Regions from separate parts of the Homo sapiens genome. Here regions 1, 3 and 4 are each linked to region 2. Evidence: fine-mapped expression QTL. A gene starts in region 2. Each other region holds a variant in brackets. All regions are shown on one strand. Distances are from middle to middle.

Evidence for each region. PIP is the estimated chance that this variant, and not a neighbour inherited with it, causes the effect.
Region 1: its variant is fine-mapped to the expression of FOXK1 in whole blood (TOPMed, PIP above 0.99).
Region 3: its variant is fine-mapped to the expression of FOXK1 in whole blood (INTERVAL, PIP 0.97).
Region 4: its variant is fine-mapped to the expression of FOXK1 in pancreas (GTEx, PIP 0.92).

The regions. Positions count from the first base shown.
Region 1 is chr7:4,747,569-4,752,568 of GRCh38, reverse strand. The region is part of intron 2 of FOXK1 (forkhead box K1); the gene reads right to left. Among named protein-coding and RNA genes, the nearest start is that of AP5Z1, 26 kb to the left of the region's middle. RefSeq lists an enhancer at 2,226-2,725. The variant G/A (reference allele first, on the strand shown) is at 2,138.
Region 2 is chr7:4,680,127-4,685,378 of GRCh38, reverse strand. FOXK1 (forkhead box K1) reads right to left here and starts at 3,084. Exons shown (of 9, transcript NM_001037165.2): 1 at 2,511-3,084. The coding sequence starts at 3,070. RefSeq lists enhancers at 1,700-2,227, 3,087-3,381, 3,583-4,083 and silencers at 2,784-2,853, 3,004-3,373.
Region 3 is chr7:4,769,893-4,775,148 of GRCh38, reverse strand. FOXK1 (forkhead box K1) reads right to left here. Exons shown (of 9, transcript NM_001037165.2): 9 at 3,707-5,256. Among named protein-coding and RNA genes, the nearest start is that of AP5Z1, 3.1 kb to the left of the region's middle. RefSeq lists enhancers at 8-57, 1-107, 108-784. The variant A/T (reference allele first, on the strand shown) is at 2,428.
Region 4 is chr7:4,754,443-4,759,442 of GRCh38, reverse strand. It overlaps FOXK1 (forkhead box K1), which reads right to left. Exons shown (of 9, transcript NM_001037165.2): 3 at 4,828-4,984; 4 at 4,060-4,206; 5 at 2,256-2,449; 6 at 226-392; 7 at 1-132. Among named protein-coding and RNA genes, the nearest start is that of AP5Z1, 19 kb to the left of the region's middle. The variant G/A (reference allele first, on the strand shown) is at 2,730.

The sequences.
Region 1 (5,000 bases), 67 kb before region 2:
CTGAGGACCAATGAGGGGCACCCCCCAGCACTCCACAACAAACAGTGATGGCCCAGCACGTGTGGCAGGGACCTGCTCCTGTTCCCAGCAGTTATTTTGCAGAAGATCATAGAAAATTCATGTCTGCCGGGTGCGGTGGCTCATGCCTGTAAGCCCAGCAATTTGGGAGGCCCAGGCAGGAGGATCGCTTGAGCCCACATGGTCGAAACTAGCCTGGGCAACATAGTGACACCCCCATCTCTACAAAAATATTAACATTAGACAGGTGTGGTGGTGTGCACCTGTAGTCTCAGCTACTCAGGAGGCTGAGGCAGGAGGACTGCTTGAGCCTAGGAGTTTGAGGCTACAGTGAGCTATAATTGTGCCACTGCACTCTGGCGGAGCAAGACCCTGTCTCTAAAAATAAATAAATAAATACATAAATAAACAAAGTTTTAACATTTTAAAAATTAGCTGGGCGTGGTAATGCACACCTGCAGTTCCAGCTGTTCAGGAGGCTGAGGCAGGAAGATGGCTTGAGCCTGGGAGGTCGAGGCTGCAGTGAGCTATGATCACACCACTGCACTCTAGCCTGGGCAACAGAGTGAGACCTTATCTCAAAAAACAAACAAAAAACCTCATGGAGTAAAACCCACAGGAAAAGTTGTCATTCCCCAGAGAATGATTTCAAGTGGAAATAAGAAAGGTTGGCGAAGCCTGGCTCCCACAGGCGAGAGAGTAGGGTGGTTTCTCCGCCACTTTCCCCAGCACTGGACCTGGCCTGGGCTGCCGGATCCTGGTGTCACTCCAGCCGGGACAGGTACGACAGCGCAGCTTCTGAGGTTTTCCAGCCACCTGGGCTGAGGGACCACATGTGTTTGTTCACATGGCTCCTCCAGCCCTCGGAGCAGCCCGTCTCTCAATAAGCCCCATTCAACTGTCCTCCGCAGGCGGGCCTCGGCCACGGGGCTGTGCCTGGTACCAGGCTCCTGATACCAAGGCCCCCGATACCAGGCCTGCAGCTGACGGAGGCGGGAAGCAGAGGCTGCTCGAGCCTCACAGCCGCTAAGAGCTGTAAAGTGCCCTGGGGGAAGACAGGTCTGAGGGCGCCCAGCCAGGGTGGGATGGGACACCCAGCTCCAAAGCCAGAGGCCTTGGAGCCATCCGGAAAACTAATCAAGACATCCCATGTCTGATGCTGGGAGTCCACGGAAACATTCCCTTAGCAATCTAAAGAAAATGCTGGGCCGGGCACGGTGGCTCACGCTTGTAATCCCAGTGCTTTGGGATTGGTAATCCCAATGCTTTTGGGATTACCCGAGGAGGGTGGATCATGAGGTCAGGAGAGCGAGACCATCCTGGCTAACACAGTGAAACCCCGTCTCTACTAAAAAAAAAATACAAAAAATTAGCCGGGCATGGTGGCAGGTGCCTGTAGTACCAGCTACTCTGGAGGCTGAGGCAGGAGAATGGCATGAACCTGGGAGGTGGAGTTTGCAGTGAGTCGAGATTGCGCCACTGCACTCCAGCCTGGGCGACAGAGCAAGACTCCATCTCAAAAAAAAAAAAAAAAAAAAGTGCTGAAGGCCAGGCACGGTGGCTCACGCCTGTAATCCCAGCACTTTGAGGGGGCCGAGGTGGGCAGATCACCTAAGGTCAGGAGTTCGAGACCAGCCTGCCCGATTTAGAGAAATCCCGTCTCTACTGAAAATGCAAAATCAGCCAGACGTGGTGGTGCATGCCTGTAATCCCAGCTACTCGGGAGGCTGAGGAAGGAGAATTGCTTGAACCCGGGAGGCAGAGGTTGCAGTGAGCCGAGATTATGCCATTGTACTCCAGCCTGGACAACAAGAGTGAAACTCTGTCTCAAAAAAAAAAAGATGGGAGACCGAGGCGGGTGGATGACGAGGTTAGGAGATCGAGACCATCCTGGCTAACACGGTGAAATCCTGTCTCTACTAAAAAATACAGAAAACAAAATTAGCTGGGTGTGGTGGCGGGCACTTGTAGTCCCAGCTACTTGGGAGGCTGAGGCAGGAGAATGGCGTGAACCTGGGAGGCGGAGCTTGCAGTGAGCAGAGATCGTGCCACTGCACTCCAGCCTGGGCGACAGAGCGAGATTCTGTCTCAAAAAAAAAAAAAAAGTGCTGAAAACGAC[G/A]GCATACACGTGCACACATTTCCTCCTGCGGGAATGAGAAAGAGCAGGAAGCTGAGGGGACCCCACTGCTCCCTGACAGGGACCACCAGCTCAATTCCAGGAAACAGGGAATCACTCCTTCTGGGGTAAGTACCCCAGGCCTCGGTCAGGCCCCCCCCAGTCCCTAGCTGCCCAGGTGTGGGACGCAGAGGCTGGACAGTGACAGCCCACAGACGTCGCGGGAATCAAACGCCTGTGCCCCCCGATTGGAGGCTGAGAGAGGGAAGAAGCACAGTAAGCAGCTCACCCCTAGGCCCTGATTTTGCTTCCTTTATATGGAGGACAATTCCCAAGTCACATTTCCGCCTCAGGCGAGAGAGCTGGAGGATTCTGAGTACGGGTCTCCCGGAGCTGTGCTCACAGGGACAACCCCATGCTGACCCACCCCGGGCAGCCTCCACCGCATCCAGGGGCCGGGCCTAGAAGGTGCCACTGGGACCACCCAGGACATGCCAGTGCAGGGAGACTGCAGAGGGACGGACGGGCTGTGGGACACACAGGTCGCTGGGTCACGTTATGATGAGAAGTCACGCTGAGAAAGGCAAATCCAACAACAGACCTAAAGCCACCTCTGGAGCCGCCAGCTGGGCTCCGTCCCCAGAGCCTAAGACAAGCCTTCCCCAGGGCACAGGGCTGCGGTCCTTCCAGTCCACCCTCAATGCCCTTGGCTCTGCTCTGAGGCTGAGAAGGCCACCCTGAGAGGCCTAGGGTCGGGACAGTTATCGCTTCCGGCAGGCCCAGGGAGGACAGTGCTCTGTCAGAAGGGACCTGATCCCTCCTGAAGCCCTAGAGACACAGAGGGACCCGCCTGGAGGGGCTGGAGGAAGGAGCTGCGACGGAGCCTTGTGGGCAGTGGAGGGGCGAGAAGGCTGCGGGGGTCTGCGATGACCTTTGCGTCCCAAGGCGGCACCTGAAGCCTCCTGGGGGAACCTCCCTGCAGAGGAGGACGCTTGGGGTCCCTGCCCCAGCCCCTGCTCCAATACCAGCCGCTCTAAGAGGGTTTTTAGGACCTCACTGTTAAACACAACAGCCGGCCAAGGCACATCTGTGGTTTGAGGAAGCTTCTACCAGGTGGAACATGGTGCAAAACAGAAGAGAAGAGGGACCCAGGGAAGCCTACGGGAGCTTGGGAGGAGATGAAACATGGTTCCCGTCCCTAGGGAGGTAACGATGCCGTCTCTGTAGGACAGTAAGAACAGCATGCAAAGCACACCTGCAGAGCAAGAACACGCTCTTCAAATTAAAAAATAAGAATTCAAAAGAAGAGAAATACAAATCCAAGAAAGGGTGGAAGGAGAGACTGGAGAAAATCCCTCAGAAAGTAGAGAGAGAAAGGAAAGGAGAGGCATGAGAGACTCAGCTCAGAGGCCCGCCAGGCACAGCCAGTCCCAGAAGCGTGGACAGGAACCTGGGGGTCCAGGCGAGGTGGCTCACACCTGTAATCCCAGCGCTTTGGGAGGCTGAGGTGGGCAGATAACTTGAGCACAGGAGTTCAAGACCAGCCTGGGCAACATGGGGAGACCCCACCTCTACAAAAAATACAAAAATTAGCCGGGCATGGTGGTGCACACCTGTAGTCCCTACTACTCGGGAGGCTGAGGCAGGAGGCTCGCTTGAGCCCAGAAGTACCAGCCTGGGCAACAAAGTGAGACCTTGTCTCTTAAATCAGTGAATAAATGAAAAGTCTGTCTCCTGTGCCCTTTCCCAGGAAGCGACTGGGGGATGGACTCTGGTAAAACAAAGGAACAAATCAGGAAAGAGGAAGACGTGGGAATCAGGAAACAGCCCTCTCTCCACCACCACCTCCTGAGGGGATTCCCAGGATGGTGGAGAAGATGATCCCATGGTCAGAGGGGCCCCAGAGGAAGGCCTTCACAGTAAAGGGAGAAGAGGCCATTATTAACCCCAAGAGCGGGGGGAGTGTGGCGGAAATAAGCCAAAAGTACAAGGAAGGAAATGGCTAAGCGCTACAATCACTACACAGTTCTAATACAGAAAACGCTCATGCAAGGTAAACCAGACATGATGATGTAACTTTACTGGGATGGGGAGGGGGGAAGCTAAATCCTTAATTTCCATATAGGAACCTCATGTGTAATATCTAAAACGGAAAAACCAAGAGACAGTCACGTACGAATACGACTCAGAGACACAGAAGTGAGAGAGAAGGGCTCAGCTCTGGGGAGCGTTGTGTGGGGGAATTTTCACTTTCTGAAATGTTTGCATTTTGTAAGATGCATATAGATAGATAGATAGTCTCTTCGTAATCTGAAAAAGGAAAAATAAACAAATAGGGAAAGAAAATTTTCAGAGGCGAATTTCTTAGAATGATCTTAAAGAATGTGTTCCTTTAAGATAAATCCGACATTGTAAAATGCTGGGAAGCTATTTTTAAAAATTAACTAGTGGATTGCTCCTGTAGTCACGGCTGAGGTGGGAGGATCGCTTGAGTCCCGGAGGTCGAGGCTGCAGCGAGCCGTGACCGGACCACTGCACTCCGGCCTGGGTGTCAGAACAAGACCCTGCTTCAAAACAAAACAAAAACAACAAAGGCAACAACAACCACAACAAAAACAGGCCCAGGCTTGTAATCTTGGCACTTTGGGAGGTCAAGGTGGGAAGACTGCTTGAGGCCAGGAGTTCAGGACCAGCCTGGGCAAGACACCATCTCAACGAAAATAAAAAATGAGCTGGGTGTGTGTGGTGGTGGGTGCCTGTAGTCCTAGCTACTCAGGAGGCTGCAGTGGGAGGATCGCTTGAGCCCGGGAGGTTGAGGTTGCAGTGAGCTGTGACTGTGCCACTGCACTCCAGCCTGGGCAATAGA
Region 2 (5,252 bases):
GCTGGGCGTGGTGTTGTGCGCCTGTAGTCCCAGCCACTCAGGAGGCTGAGGCAGGAGAATCTCTTGAACCCGGGAGGTAGAGTTTGCAGTGAGCCACTGCACTCCAGTCTGGACAACAGAGCGAGACTCCATGACAGAAAAAAAAAAAAAAAAAAAAGCAAATAGCTCTTTTCTAGGAGGGTGGACATGGACATCCACTTAATGTTTTTCCTTCTGCACATTTGCTTTGTTCTTGTAAATTTTACATTGCTGCCTACATAGATATTGCTCACATGTGCAGGTGAAGTCAAATAAAAACAGACAGGCGCAGTGGGCCAAGCACTTCACGCACATCTAATGCACCAAGTCAGCGGGCGGGCATCTGTGTAGCCTGACAGCCCCACCACAATGCCTGGTAATGCACCCACCGAGAACACGAGCTCCCTGGAGCATAAATGTGCAAGGACTGTATACACCGATAACATTTCATAAATAACAGGCTTGCTACTGGCCTATTCGTAGACGATCTGAGGTTGAAATTTTTTCCCCTTGAATTACAAAAAAAAAATACCGTGAAAGCCTCCTTCAAGATTCACTAAAGCTGGGCCTGACTCAGGAGTGCACCTGTTTCCACGGCAGGGGCAGGAAACCTGAAAACAAGACTTTAATGGAAGTACTTAGTGAACCTGAGTTATATAAAGGTGCGTCTGTAAAGCAGGCCTCTAAGGGGGGCCTGGGGAGCCTACCTGTCATTTTCTTACTGGAGGGGAGAGTGGCCAGGAAATGCATTTAATGGCCCCAAACGGAGAGAGTGTATTGGTTATGGAAGAGAGAGAACACACTAATATCTGAGGCAAAGAACAAATTTGTTATCTCCTGAGTTCTGATTTTACCAAAATGCACACCTTTCAGCACGGTTAGAAAAAGGTATACTTCCCCTCTCACGCCCCAAGGGGGAGTGAGTCATTGTTGATGTTGCATTTTAAATTATTCAATGCGATATCTGTAACCAAACATGCCAAGACTAAAAAAGGGGAGAAGTTTACAGACACAAACTTTGGGCCCTGGGAATTACCCCAGCAAAAATTCCCCAGACGCAAGGCGTTTATAAAAGGGAGTAATTAGACAGACAACCCTGAACAAGAACCACATTGAAGAAATATAAACACTGGTGATGAGTTAGAGGCAATCACTAAATAGAAAAAGAAAGTGGCTCCAGAGGAAATGAGTAATTAAACAGGCTTTCTCCTGATCAACAGACCTTGAGGTCCGGGGCAGAGCAGAGGGTGCGGAGGGCAGTGGAGCTGGAAAGGAGGGAACCGGAATGGGCGGGAGGTGACCACGGGATGCTACCAAAGGCACCGACAGGCCTGGGCAGCCGTCCAGGCCCAGCTGGGTCTCTCTGCCCTGGTGACCTCGGGCCCGGGGGAATCTAATTTGATCTTGGGGTCCCGCTACTCCATCCAAGGAGCACTAGTTGGGGATGTAAACTGAGGCACAGGCTTCCTGTCCTCGCCCCTCCCCGCCAGGCCTCTGCTCCTTCAGCACAGCCCACACTCCTAGGGACCTCGCACTTCCCGGAGCAACACCCTCCCACTGTCCTGGGTGAGTGTGTTGGGGTCCCCCAGGACCCAGACTGGATGGGGTGGGGGTGGCCCAAGGGTCCAGACCAGACAGGGTCAGGGGTAGCCACTGGGGTCCAGGACGGCAGGCATCAGGCACTGGGGTGACTTGAGGCCCTGGCTGGTGGGGGTCGGGGGTGGTCCTGAGAACCAGGTCAGGCTGGGGTGACCCTGGAGTCCAAGCTGGTGGGGGTCCAGGGTGACCTGGAAGGGTTGAGGGTGATCCCCAGGCCCAGGCAGCAGGGACTGGGGTCAAGGTGACCTCAGTAACCCAGCTGGGTGGAGCTGGGGTGGGAGTGGCCCTGCGAGCCCAGGCTTGTGGGGTTAGCGGTCAGGGGTGACTCCGGGGGGGCCTAGGAAGTGGGGGTCGCGGTTAACCTTGCGTGTTTAGGCAGGGTAGGGACGTAGATGACCCCAGGGATCCAGGCCAGTGGGAGTTCAGAATGACCCCGGAGTCCAGGCCGATGGGAGCTGGGGAGCAGCAGGGATCTGGGTCAGGGGTCTAAGAGGCCCAGCCAGATGGGCTTGGGGTATGGGTGGCTCCAGGAGCCCAGGCCGGTGGGAGATGAGGTCAGGGGTGACCCCAGGAGCCGCAAGGTGTGGGTCAGGGCTGACCCCAGAGTCCAGGCCGGTGGGGGTCGGGGGCGACGGGGTATCCAGACCGGGGAAAGTGGAGGAGATCCTCAGGCTGGAGCCTCCAGGATCGGGGTCGGGGTGATCCTAGGGAGCCAGGAGGCGGGGGTCGGGGTTGACCCCGGAGTCCAGGCCGGTCGGGGGTTACCGGGGGTGGGCCGGGGGGTGGGGGTCGAGGCCGAGGAAGCTGGAGGGGGATCCCCAGGCCCGGGCCTCAGAGATCGAGGTCGTGGGCGAGCCCCGGGTGCGGGCGGCGGGGGTCGCGGGGCCACTCACTGCTTGGGCAGCTGCAGGGCGGGCGCGCCGCGTCTCTGGAAGGCCCCGTCCACGAAGACGCCGTTCTTGCCGAGGCAGCGCAGGTAGAAGTGCGGCTCCTGGAAGCTGAGCTGCAGGTGGCGCCGCGAGATGAAGCTGGACAGGCCCATGCTCAAGTCCACCGAGCCCTGCGACGAGTTGCGGCCGATGGTGACGCTGGGCTGGCGCATGAGGAACTCGAACTCGCGGCCCTCCAGCCGCGCCAGCGCCGGCCCCGGGCTCTGCCGTACCGAGGCGGCCGCCGCGGCCACCAGGGCCGGCGCCGCGCCCGCGACCGCGGAGTCCCCGGATACCCCGGAGGAGCCCCCGGAGGAGCCCGCGCCCGCGATCGCGCCCGGAGGCAGCGGCGGTGGCGGCGGCGGCGGCGGCCCGGGCGGAGGCTGGGGCTGCGCGGGGGCCGGCGGGGGTGCGGCCGCGGGGAAGGCGGCGGCGGCGGCTGCGGCGCACAGCACTGGGCTGCAGGGCGCCGAGCGCAGCGCGAGCAGGGCGCGGGCGCCGCTGTCCTCGCCGACTTCGGCCATGTTCGCGCGGCTCCGAGCGGCCTCCGGCGGCGGCGGCTGCAGCGGCGGCGCGGGGGGCGGGGAGGTCGGGGCGCTGGGCGGGCGCGGAAACCCGGGCCAGATCGCGCCGGCGCGGAGCGGAGCCTCCCAGCCCACCGTGCGCCTCGCCTCGCCCGCCCGCCGGTCCCGCCCAGCGTAGCCCACGTGGCGCGCGCCAGCGCGGGGCTGGGGGCGAGGCCTGTGCCGGGAGGGCCGGCGGGCCCCCGGGAGAGCTGGGCCCGGCGCACCTCGTCCCCTCCCCGCGGGGCTGCAGGCGGCGGGCGCCCTTTCCTCCATCCAGGGGGAAGAGGGGACCCCTGAAATGCCCAGCCACAAAGTTTTGAGCCTGGGTCATTGGAGAAAGGGACGGATGACCTCAGCAGTCTCCCCGCCCCAGACACTCCAGGCCCCCAACCCTAAAGTGTAAGATAGACAGAAGATAAAATATATGTGTATTATATACAATACATATGTTTATATTCTAACCTCGCTCTGTCGCCCAGGCTGCAGTGCGGTGGCAAAATCATAGCTCACTGCAGCTTCCACCTCCTGTGCCCAAGTCACCCTCCTGCCTCTGCCTCACAAGTGCCACCACGCCCAGCTAATTTTTTTACTTCTTATAGAGACAGGGTCTTGCTATGTTGGCCAGGCTGGTCTCAAACTCCTGGTCTCAAGTGATCTATCTATCTCGACCTCCCAAAGCACTGGGATTACCCGTGTGAGCCACAGTGCCAGGCCTGATCATTCTTAAGCCCTCAGATTAAAGGTCATCATACTCTACTGTAACTGAAGACCACTTGAGATCCATCCCTGAATCCCTGATCCATCCTTCCTTCCTTCTTTCCTTCCTTCCTTCCTTCCCTTCCTTCCCTTCATTCCTTCCCTTCCCTTCATTCCTTCCTTCCCTCCCTTCTTTCCTTCCTTCCTTCCTTCCCTTCCTCCCTCCCTTCCCTTCCTCTCCTTCTTTCCCTTCCCTTCCTTCCTTTCCTTCCTTCCTTCCCTCCCTCTCTTCCTTCCTCCCTCCCTTTCCTTCCTTCCTTTCCTTTCCTTCCTTCCTTTCCTTCCTTCCTTCCCTCCCTCCCTTCTTTCCTTCCTTCCTTCCCTTCCTCCCTCCCTTCCCTTCCTCTCCTTCCTTCCCTTCCCTTCCTTCCTTTCCTTCCCTTCCTTCCTTTCCTTTCCTTCCTTCCTTCCTTTCCTTCCTTCCCTCCCTCCCTTCCTCCCTCCATTTCCTTCCTTCCTTTCCTTCCTTCCTTCCTTCCTCCTTTCCTTCCTTCCTTCCTTTCTTTCTTCCCTTCCTTCCTTCCTTCTTTTTTTTTTTTTTTGAGACGGAGTTTCGCTCTTGTTGCCCAGGCTGTAGTGCAATGGCGCAATCTCGACTCAACGCAACCTCCACCCCCTGGATTCAAGCAATTCTCCTGCCTCAGCCTCCCAAGTAGCTGGGATTACAGTCATGTACCACCAGGCCCGGCTCATTTTGTATTTTTTTAGTAGAGATGGGGTTTCTCCGTGTTGGTCAGACTAGTCCTGAAAACCCGACCTCAGGTGATCTGCCCGCCTCAGCCTCCCAAAGTCCTGGGATTACAGGCGGGAGCCACCGTGCCCGGCCGCCTGCCTGCCTTCCTTCCTTCCTTCCTTCCTTCCTTCCTTCCTTCCTTCCTTCCTTCCTTCCTTTCTTTCCCTCCCTCCCTCCCTTCCTTCCTTCTCTCTCTTTCTTGTCTTTTTCTTTTGAGACAGGGTCTCACTCTGTCACCCAGGCTGGAGTGCAGTGGTACAATCATAGCTCACTGCAGCCTCAACCTTCAGGGCTCAGGTGATTTTCCCACCTCACCCTCCCAAGTAGCTGGGACTATGAGCCACCATGCCCGACTAATTTTTAATTTTTTTTTTTTTTAAGGCAGAGTCTTAATCTGTCACCCAGGCTGGAGTGTAATGGTGCAGTCTCGGCTCACTGCAACCGATTCTCCTGCCTCAGCCTCCCAAGTCGCTGGGATTACAGGCATCTGCCACCACACCCAGCTAATTTTTGTATTTTTAGTAGAGACGGGGTTTCAACCATGTTGGTGAAGCTGGTCTCAAACTCCTGACCTCAGGTGATCCACCTGCCTCGACCTCCTAAAGTGCTGGGGCTGCAGGCGGGAGCCGCCTCACCTGGCCTTTTTCAATT
Region 3 (5,256 bases), 90 kb before region 2:
GCGCTGTTCCTGCTGCTTGAAACGAAAAAATCCCTTATTCAATCCCCACGGTATTCATGGGATCTCGCGATCTCTGTTTTACAGATGAGGCCACAGGCTCGGAGAGGGGAAGTTTCTGTTCATTCTAACGGATGTGTTGGGTGCCCAAATGTGCTGGGCCCTGGCCATAAGTTTGCCATCCTGCAGACGGCCGAGGGACACAGGGCGACACGCCAGCGTCATGATAAACGCTATGACAGCCTGACCTGGTTGGGGGTCCAACCGGAGGAGGAAGGCTTCGGCGACTGCGGCCTAAGATGAGCCCAGAGGGTGTCCAGACCAAGGGGTGGGGAGGGACGGGCCTAGGGTAGCGATCTGCTTCCTATGGCTTAAATGCACCCCAGGAGGAAACTGATCTCTGGCCGCAGGGGAGATAATGGATTGGGAAGCTCCTGAGGGAGAAAGGAGGCTGGTGCAGTTGTGGTCCAGGTAAGGGAGGTTGCCCCGAAAGTAGGCAGATTCAGTACCATTTAGAGGTAGGATTTGCACCACCTGTGATTGAGGAATTTGCAGGCAGGAGGAAGAAAGTGGAAAAATCAAGGGTAACTTCATGTTTGTGGGGTGTCTGTCTGGGGCAGAAAAGGACGAGGAAATTTGTGCCAAGAGTCATTCATTAAGTGGACAAGCGATGATTGAGTCCTAGCTGCGCTAGGCACTGCTGAAGGTTCTGGGGAATAGGGTAGGGGTGGGAATCAATGTTGCGTAGATAGGGTGGGTCAAGGTTAGGCCTTGAAGGGATAAGCCCCGAGAAGACCCCTGGATGGAAGGAAGGAGGAGGAGGAGGGAGGGCTTCCTGCAGGAGTTCCAAACATGGCTTTGAGATGCCCTAGGGCGCCCAGTGATGTCTGAGGGCACCTGGTGCAGAGAATGAAGAGATGGGAATCGGTGGATGGTGAGCGGTGGATGGGAGTCGGTGGAGTGCGGCGGGTGCCCCTGGAGCCGCAGGTTGAAGACTGGCAAAGGAAAGCTGGTGACAGGTAGTCTATGGAAAGCCTACTGCCAGTGTTTAACGTTTACTAGGGTAAAACGTCCACACCAAAGCGCACAAATCTTAAATGAACTCCACTATTTACATTTCTAGAAATCGGTGGTAAATTTGCAAATGTCTTAAGCCTCGGCTCCATTGGCGACGGTGGGGAGCCGGGGGTTGATTTGTGTTTGATAATTTCTGTGGTGTAAATGTTCCTGCCATGGTTTGAGTTCAAGACCTAGACCATTTCCAGCTCCCCAGAGGTTCCCCGCTGTGGCCCCCTCCCAGTCAACGCCCACTCCCTTCCCCCACAAGTAACTGCTAGTCTCTCTTATCACCAGAGATTAGTTTTGCGTCTTTTTATACTTCATGCAAATGGAATCGTACCGTACTTAGCTTTTCTTGTTCGTCCATGAATATTTGGTCGGTTTCCAGATTTTGACAATAACGAATAGAGCTGCAGTGCACAATTGTATGTCTTCTGGGGTTCTGAGAGATGCACCCCTCTTTGTTGTATAGATACCAGGTTCACAGGGAAGCTAACTTTAACTGAGATTCCAACTGTGTGCCAGGAATCTCAATCTCTCTCTCCCTCTCTCTCTTCACACAGACACGACCTTAAGCAATTTTACCAGGGGTAATATTTGACTTGTTTCTTACAAAATATTTACATTAGTGTAAAATATTATTTTAAGGTCTCACTAGTGAAAAATGGTTGTGCTAATCAAAAGCAAAAAAGGCCAGGCACGGTGGCTCACACCTGTAATCCAAACACTGGGAGGTCGAGGCAGGAGGATCGCTTGAGCCCAGTTCAAGACCAGCCTGGGCAACATGGCAAGACCCTGTCTCTAAACAAGCAAGCAAACAAACAAACACAAAGACAACATCTTAAAAAGGAAAGATGCAATTAATAATTAGCCAACGCAGATCCCTGGAGGAAGCCTACATACGCTTCTCACTCATGTTTGCTATTGGGCTAAAATGTTTTTCTTTTTTTTCTTTTTTTTTTTTTTTGAGACTGAGTCTTGCTGTGTCCCCCAGGCTGGAGTGCAGTGGCGTGATCTCAGCTCACTGCAACGTCCACCTCCTGGGTTCAAGCAGTTCTCCTGCCTCAGCCTCCCAGGTAACTGGGATTACAGGTGCAAGCCACCATGCCTAGTTAATTTTTTGTATTTTTTTTAGTAGAGACGGGGTTTTACCATGTTGTCCAGGCTGGTCTTGAACTGCTGACCTCAAATGATCCACCCGCCTTGGCCTCCCAAAGTGCTGGGATTACAGGCGTGAGCCACCGCGCCCAGCCTGGGCTGACATCTTAAACTAGAACTAATCTGTTAAAGTTATGTTAACCTCTTACAATGGAAATGGAGTAACTTGAAGGAAGACAGAGAAGCAGTGAAACCTTACCTGCAATGGTGGGT[A/T]ACTGTGCCATCGGAAAAATGCAAGTTATTGAACTGAGGGAGTCACATGCAAACACTACAGAACCTTGACAGAAGAGAGACATGTGACAAGCATGCACCACTGTCAAGTCTGTCGGAGGCAGTCACACAGACACACCCAAGGGTCTCATAAGTCTGGGGGACTCTCAGAAGAGACAGTGACTGATGGCATCGCAGCTGAGCTTCGGGGCGCCAGGCCTGTGGGGTGGGGGTGCCTGTGCTGCATGTGAAGAAGTGGGGCGCATTGCAAGCTGAAGTCCCACAGCTGGTAAGGACACAGTAGGAACTTGAACCCAGGTCTGTGTAGTTCCAAAGTCAATGCCATCCCCACCCCCCAGGCCCCACACCTACAATAAGTAAGGCCTGAGAGAATTTCTACCCACGTACATTTCTACCCATCTTGGACATGGGTAGAAATTCTCATCTAGCCAAGGGCCAGCAGGAAGGACCCACAGTTGCCCAGGAGCCACTGGGGCAGCAACGAGTACCTGCAAGTGCCCCCCAGCCAGGATGTGGGCGTGTGCCAGGGGCAGGGGGTTGGCTCAGCTGGTTTCTGCCTTTGCCATGTCTGAGGGGAGACACACGTTGTCTTCACATTCCTGGAGCTGCAAACATCCTCGCTTAGAGCACTCTCAGTGGGTGGGGGTCACTGACTCCAGGAGCCACAGGCACCTGCAGAAGCATCTCCTGTGTGAGCCAGGAACGGGACACCAGGGACCTATGGGCGACTTCCCTTATCAGCAGCCGCCCTTCAGCCTCTGGAGCAGGGGGGCGCAGTGCCTGTGTGTCCAGGGGGCCGGGAGCCTGTATGTCCAGGGGCTCAGGGGTCTGTGTGTCCAGGGGTCAGGGGTCTGTGTGTCCAGGGGGTCGGGAGCCTGTGTGTCTAGGGGGCCGGGAGCCTGTATGTCCAGGGGCTCAGGGGTCTGTGTGTCCAGGGGTCAGGGGTCTGTGTGTCCAGGGGGTCAGGGGCCTGTGTGTCCAGGGGGTCAGGGGCCTGTGTGTCCAGGGGGCCGGGAGCCTGTATGTCTAGGGGGTCGGGAGCCTCTGTGTCCAGGGGGCCAGGTGCCTGTATGTCTAGGGGCTCAGGGGTCTGTGTGTCCGGGGGTCAGGAGCCTGTGTGTCCAGGGGGTCAGGTGTTTGTGTATCCAGGGGGTCGGGAGCCTATGTGTCCAGGGGCCTGGTGTCTGTGTGTCCAGGCCGTCTGTCCGTCCGCCACCTTCAGTAGCCACCTGCGCAGAAGGACCACACCGGAGCCGCAGGGTCATTTCTTTAATATAGAATTTTATTTCTGGTTATAGAAACAAATGCTAAGAGGAGAAACAAAACTTCCCCATCCACATACAACAATTTAATAGATAAAAGAACAGTTAAAATAAATGAAAAACAAAAAGTAGAAATTTTAAACTTTGTTATAGCTTTAAAACATTAACGTCTGATACAATTAGAAATCACATTCAGATCTCAAACTCTTAAAAAAAAGTATGGCTCCTTATTAAAAAAATACTGTATCCCACTTGAAATGAAAACACAGGTTGCCTGCTGTTGACATGGGTGGGGCTGTCCCTTCCTCTGGTGTCGTGCGTGCCCCCTCCCGGTGCTGGGGTGCAGCCACACCCCCCCGCCGGGCGCCCACCTTCACTCCTCCAGGGTGAGACACGCAAGGTGACATGACCAGAACTTCACATCCAATGCTCTAGAACTGACATTTCCACTTCATAGGACACTGCTGCTTTTTAAAGCACTGATTATCAAACATGTTGTGAAAAATACTTTAGACAGGCGCCACTGTAAAAAAAAAAATACACACACACACACACACACACACACACACACACACACCGAACAACACCCGCCCCTCCCAAATTATTTTTACAGGAGAATAATCGTTCAGATTAAAACAACAAGAACAAAAACTCAATATTGGCTTTAACCCCTCCTGCACGTGTGCTGAGCTGCCGGCCTTTGTCATCTGCAGGGCACGTGCAGCCCAAGTGTCTGGACTCAGCGACATCTCAGGACAGACTCTGGAACACGGCTGTTGTCTCTCCTCCCGCCCCCCTTTTCCTGAAACAGAAATCAAGCCACATACATGAAGGTATTCTAGGTATCCAAAAAGCCTTTCTTGAAAAAAAGAAGAGCCAAACTTAAAATACTTGATTTGATTATTATTTTTGAGACAGAGTCTCCCTCTGTTGCCCAGGCTGGAGTGCAGTGGCATGATCTCGGCTCACTGCAACCTCCATCTCCCAGGTTCAAGCGATTCTCATGCCTCAGCCTCCCTGGTAGCTGGGATTACAGGCACACGCCACCACGCCTGGCTAATTTTTTGTATTTTTAGTAGAGACAGGATTTCACCATGTTGGTCAGGCTGGTCTCAAACTCCTCAGGTGATGCGCCTGCCTCGGCCTCCCAAAGTGCTGGGATTACGGGCATGAGCCACCGCACCTGGCCAAATATTTGATTTTAAATTCCCATTGTTACTGATTAAAAAAAAAAAATCTGGACCAGTTAACCTGGAGATTTAGAGGCTATAGACACAATTTAACATCCATACAGGCCTGTGAACTTCATGCAGAGAACAAACAAACAAACAAAAACTCTAATTCAGAGTCTCTCATTTCAGCTTAGCCAACACATTTGGAGACTTAGGGGCCAGTTCTAGAAGCTGCTTTTACCTCTAGACTCGGAGGGGCAGGCCCTGTCACCGAAGGGAGGAAAACTCTTCTTGGCTGTCAGCCCGGATTGAAGCCACTTCGCTTCCCCTGGCCCCAGCTTTCCTGCACTCTTTTCACCGTGTCTGACACAGGGCAA
Region 4 (5,000 bases), 74 kb before region 2:
CGTGGATGGCGTGGCCCGCGGGCTGCTGTGAGGTTACGATGGAGGCGGGCATGTAGGCCACGGGCTTGGCCACGAGGCTGGACGGTCGGGGAGGCACGGCCATGATCACTGGCTGGGCGCTGACGGGGGAGCCTGCACGGAGGGCGGAGAGCGGACGGTGACCCCTCCCGCACCCCCACGAGTCCCGCCCCGCCCCGCCCCGCAAGAGGGCCGCCCGCTCCTTACCGGGTGCGCTTTGGGAATACCGGTACTCTGGGACAGAAGCTAACTTGGACCCAAACTCAGGGTCGTGTGGAATGGGGGAGCCCTCCCGAGACAGGCACTCTGGGGTCTGCAGGCCGCCGGAGCGAGGGGACATCAGCCCGGGGTGTGTGGGCGAAGCTGGAGCGCTCCTGGAAGACAGGCAAGGGCCGCGGCAGTCAGCGCCCGCGCTGAGGGATGCGAGGACGTTTCCGAGACATCACGCATCTCAGCGCCGTCACCCGCCCACGCTCCCTGGAGCTCGTCTCTGTCCTCCGCATTCAGACGGTGAGAAACGCCCCCGTAACCTGAACCCAGCCTTTAAAACTCCATTTGAGTGGGGGCTGCATGGGGGAGGCTCCGTTCCATGAGAGGGGACGGTATCATGTGAGGTGCTGCAGTGAACGCAACAACCTACGGAGTTCACTTCCACCGAGGTCCAGCCAGGTGTCCATGAAAATGGCCCAGGCCTTCTGTGCCAAAAACATAAGCTTCTGTTTGGTGGGCGCAACCGTTCCACCATGAAAACTCTACCCGAGAGGGGTGTTTGAACGTCATTTGGAGCTCAGTTTAAATGCTGCAAATGACGTTCGAACACTTTTTTGAAGTCCTACCTCAACCATACGCCCAGTTCACCTGAGAATCACAATGCCAGACCCTGTGCTCGAAATGAATTTTCAGATATTTCAATCTTTCATCAAATCGTGTTGGAAACAGAATTTTGAAATGGGAAGCACGAGAGGTTAACGTGTCCTTCCACGGGGAAGGATTTCCGAGACTGCCGCTCAGGAGATCTCCTCCTCGACACCTGGGACGGGCTCATCTGATGGGCAACCTGGGAAGCGCTGCCCAGACCGCTCACAGGCGGTGCATGCTCCTCCAGACTGGGCTTGGCCAAGACTGAGCTGGGCAGGGGAGGCCCTGACGCAGCAGGTGGGCAGCAATGGCTGGGGGAGGGTCTGTCCACCCCGCCGGCAGCAGAGCTGCGTTCCCAGCATCTGCGAAAAGCAAAGGCGGTTGTGGGCTCCCCAGGTCATACCCCTCATCTGTCCCTTCGAAGATTGGGCTCTCCCCGGGTCCTCTCACACACTGCAACAGAAAGCTTAGTGCTACCAAAAGACCCACAACCGCAATCCATTTATTCTTGGCCTTAGGAACCGTTCCTATTGCTACACACATTTCCACTTCTAAGAACTAAAATCTTATTTTTAATACAACAGTCAGTGGCTTACTTAGTAACCTTACTATTTTAGGAGTTCTTGGTCCTGAGATATTCTCTCAAAACAAAAACAGAAAATGGTGCAGTCTTTAAGTGCCGAAACCAGCAGTCACCCCTCGGTACTTGAGGGGCGGGGGTTGTGGGTACCAAATCTGCAGATGCTTACCCAAGTTCCTCATAGAAATGGTGTCGCATTTGCATACAACCTGTGCACATCCTCCTGTAAGCTTTAAATCATCGCCAGGTTACTTATAATCCCTAACAAATGTACCTGCTATGTAAACAGCTGTTGTAGTGTGTATTGTTTCATTTGTATTACTTTTTTTTTTTTTTTTTTTTTTTTTTTTTTGAGACGGAGTTTTGCTCTTGTCGCCCAGGCTGCAGTGCAGTGGTACATACAATCTCGGCTCACTGCAACTTCTGCCTCCGAGATTCAAGCGATTCTCCTACCTCAGCCTCCCCAGTAGCTGGAATTACAGGCACCTGCCACCATGCCCGACTAATTTTGAATTTTTTTAGTAGAGGCAGGGGTTTCACCATGTTGGCTAGGCTGGTCTCAAACCCCTGACCTCAGGTGATCCACTTGCCTCGGCCTCCCAGAGTGCTGGGATTACAGGCGTGAGCCACCGCGCCGGCCTTCTTTTTTTTGGAATATTTTTGACCTGTGATCAGTTGCATGCCCGTACACTGAGCCTGAGCCCACAGATCCGGAGGGCTGACTGCGCCACGTATCTCTAAACTCCAGGGCAGCTCAGCTTTCCTAACAGCTGGAGGACGGGCGCTCAGAGAACTTTACCTTGAGGACAGAGGCCCGAAGGGGGTGCGGAAGCAGGAGACACCCCTCTGCCTCCGTTTCCGGAATGCCTGTTCCACGAGCTTGGCTTCAGAGGCAGGGTCTATTCGCCAAAAGGACCCCTTCCCAGGCTCCTCCTGGGAACGTGGGACTTTGATAAAGTAACGGTTCAAAGAGAGGTTGTGCCGGATAGAATTCTGCAGGGAAGCAGAGATATTCACCCATCACCAGCAAATCAGAAAATGAGTCCCACCCACCTCAAATCTGCAGCAGATGCGGGACCAGGGTGAGGGGAGGCCGTCCCTCTGTGCAGAGCCCTTGGTGCTGTGCTGGCTGGGCCTCACGGGAGCAGCACCGAGGCACAGGGCAGGTCATTCCTATCAAAATTTGACACCGCATAATTACCATTTTACCTTTTTTTTTTTTTTGACGGAGTCTCATTCTGTCGCCCAGGATGGAGTGCAGTGGCACGATCTC[G/A]GCTCACTGCAAGTTCCGCCTCCCGGGTTCAAGGGATTCTCCTGCCTCAGCCTCCTGACTAGCTGGGACTATGGGCGTGGGCCACCATGCTGGGTTGATTTTTTTGTATTTTTAGTTGAGATGGGGTCTCACACTCTTGGGCTTAACCAATCCTTCCACCTCGGCCTCCCAAAGTGCTGGGATTACAGGCATGAGCTACTGTGCCTGGCTGCCATTACCATTCTTTACAGAAAAAGTGAAACAGAAAGACAGATCCTGGTCTAGGAGCACATCTGGGAGAAAGAAAACACTGGGTCTTGGCCGGGCACAGTGGCTCACGCCTGTAATCCCAGCACTTTGGGAAGCCGAGGCTGGCAGGATTACCTGAGGTCAGGAGTTTGAGACCAGCCTGGGCAACATGGTGAAACCCCATCTCTACTAAAAATACAAAAAATAGCCAGGTGTGGTGGTGGGCACCTGTAGCCCCAGCTACTTGGGAGGCTGAAGCAGAAGAATCGCTTGAACCTGGGAGGCGAAGGTTGCAGTGAGCTGAGATCGCGCCACCACACTCCAGCCGGGATGGCAGAGCGAGATCCTGTCTCAAAAAACAAACAAACAAACAAAAAACCAAAGCTAGTGGATGCGCTACACTGACATTGGAGAAAATACAGGCAAATGCAACATGCATCAGTCATGGCTGGTGTGGACAAAGCTCTTAAAATGCCATCCACAATTCAGACATGTGGATTGTTTGAATAACAGTATATGGTACATTTTTCCAACTTAACGTGGGATTGTGAGGCACAGCAAGCACAAAAATCTAACAAGGTGTAGATCCATCTTCTCAGTTCTGGGGCTCAGAAGAAGGAAACTAATAAAAAAGAGTATTTAGACACAATGGTATCACAGCGCTAATGCCTTTCAGATGTACCATATGCCATTCGTGAAAACATCCCTCTTTTATATTTATCTTCTTAGTTAAAAAGATATTTTTTTTCTTTGTAGACACAGGGTCTTTCTCTGTCTCCCAGGCTGGAGTGCAGTGGTGTGATCATAGCTCACTGCAGCCTCCACCTCCTGGGCTCAAGTGATCCTCCCACCTCAGCCTCCGAGTAGCTGCGACCACAGGTGTGCACCACCACACTCAGCTAATTTTTAGTAGAAAAGAGGTTCTCTCTATGTTGCACAGGCTGGTCTTGATCCTCCTCCTGCCTCGGCCTCACAAAATGCTAGGGTTCCAGGCGTGAGCCCCCTCACTGGCCCTCTTCTGTTTTAAGGGAAGCAATATGCCTGTGAGTTCCATGTTCTAAGGGCCTTCAGAGGCGATCCGGCCCTGGGGACTCGGCTTCACCTGCCAGCCTTTGTCGGCCGTCCGGTAGTAGGGGTAATGCTTGGTGATGTGGGCGTAGATCCCGCTCAGGGTCAGCTGCCGGTCCTGGGCGGAGGAGATGGCCTGCACGATCAGCTGCGCGTAGGAGAACGGCGGCTTTGACTCATCCTGCGGAGAAACACGGCTCACGGGATGAGCTCCAGCAAGGTCCCTGAGTCTACCCCACCCACCCGTCACAGCTGATGGGGAGGAACCTTCCCACGAGAATGTGCGCGTCTTGCCGGCACCCGTCCCAGTGCCCTCCAACTATCCCATTAATGTGCTTGCATTCAACTAGGAACAACCATTTTTGCCTCATGGGAAGGAAAACTTCGGTTTTATTATAATTTAATTCTGAAATTTCTCACCTCTTCCAGAAATCAATTTGAAAACAGCTATTGGACAAAAATGAACTAAGACAAAGTTATAAGGAGAACGCCATCCTGCTCAAGGGCTGTATGAAGGCTTTGACGCCGGGCTGCCAGCGGCAGATGAACAAGGAGCGTGGCGGGAGGGGCCCTCGGTGACGGCGCCACCCCTGTCACCAGCAAATGACCAACGGGGATGATTTGGGCACGAAAACGAGAAAGGGCCGACGGCTCTACCGCCAGCTGCGGCTCCATTCCCTGTGGGCTGAGACCACCTCGAGCACACGCCCGCAGGCCCTGGGCTGTCTGTGCCGCCCGCGCCGGGTCACTATGGCCCGATCCTGGGTCACCAGGTGCACCACGGCGCCAGGTGGGCTCAGACCTTGGGGCTGTCTCCTCCAGACGTGTCTGCCTGCTGCTCCGACGCGGCCTTTGCTGCAAACTCTGCTGCCAGCTGCAGGTCCGAGGTCACGTTCTGCACAAAGCGGTAACTGGAGGAGCCGGCACCGCGTGGACTGGCTGGGCAGGAGTTGGGGACACTGAGGAGAGAGAAGG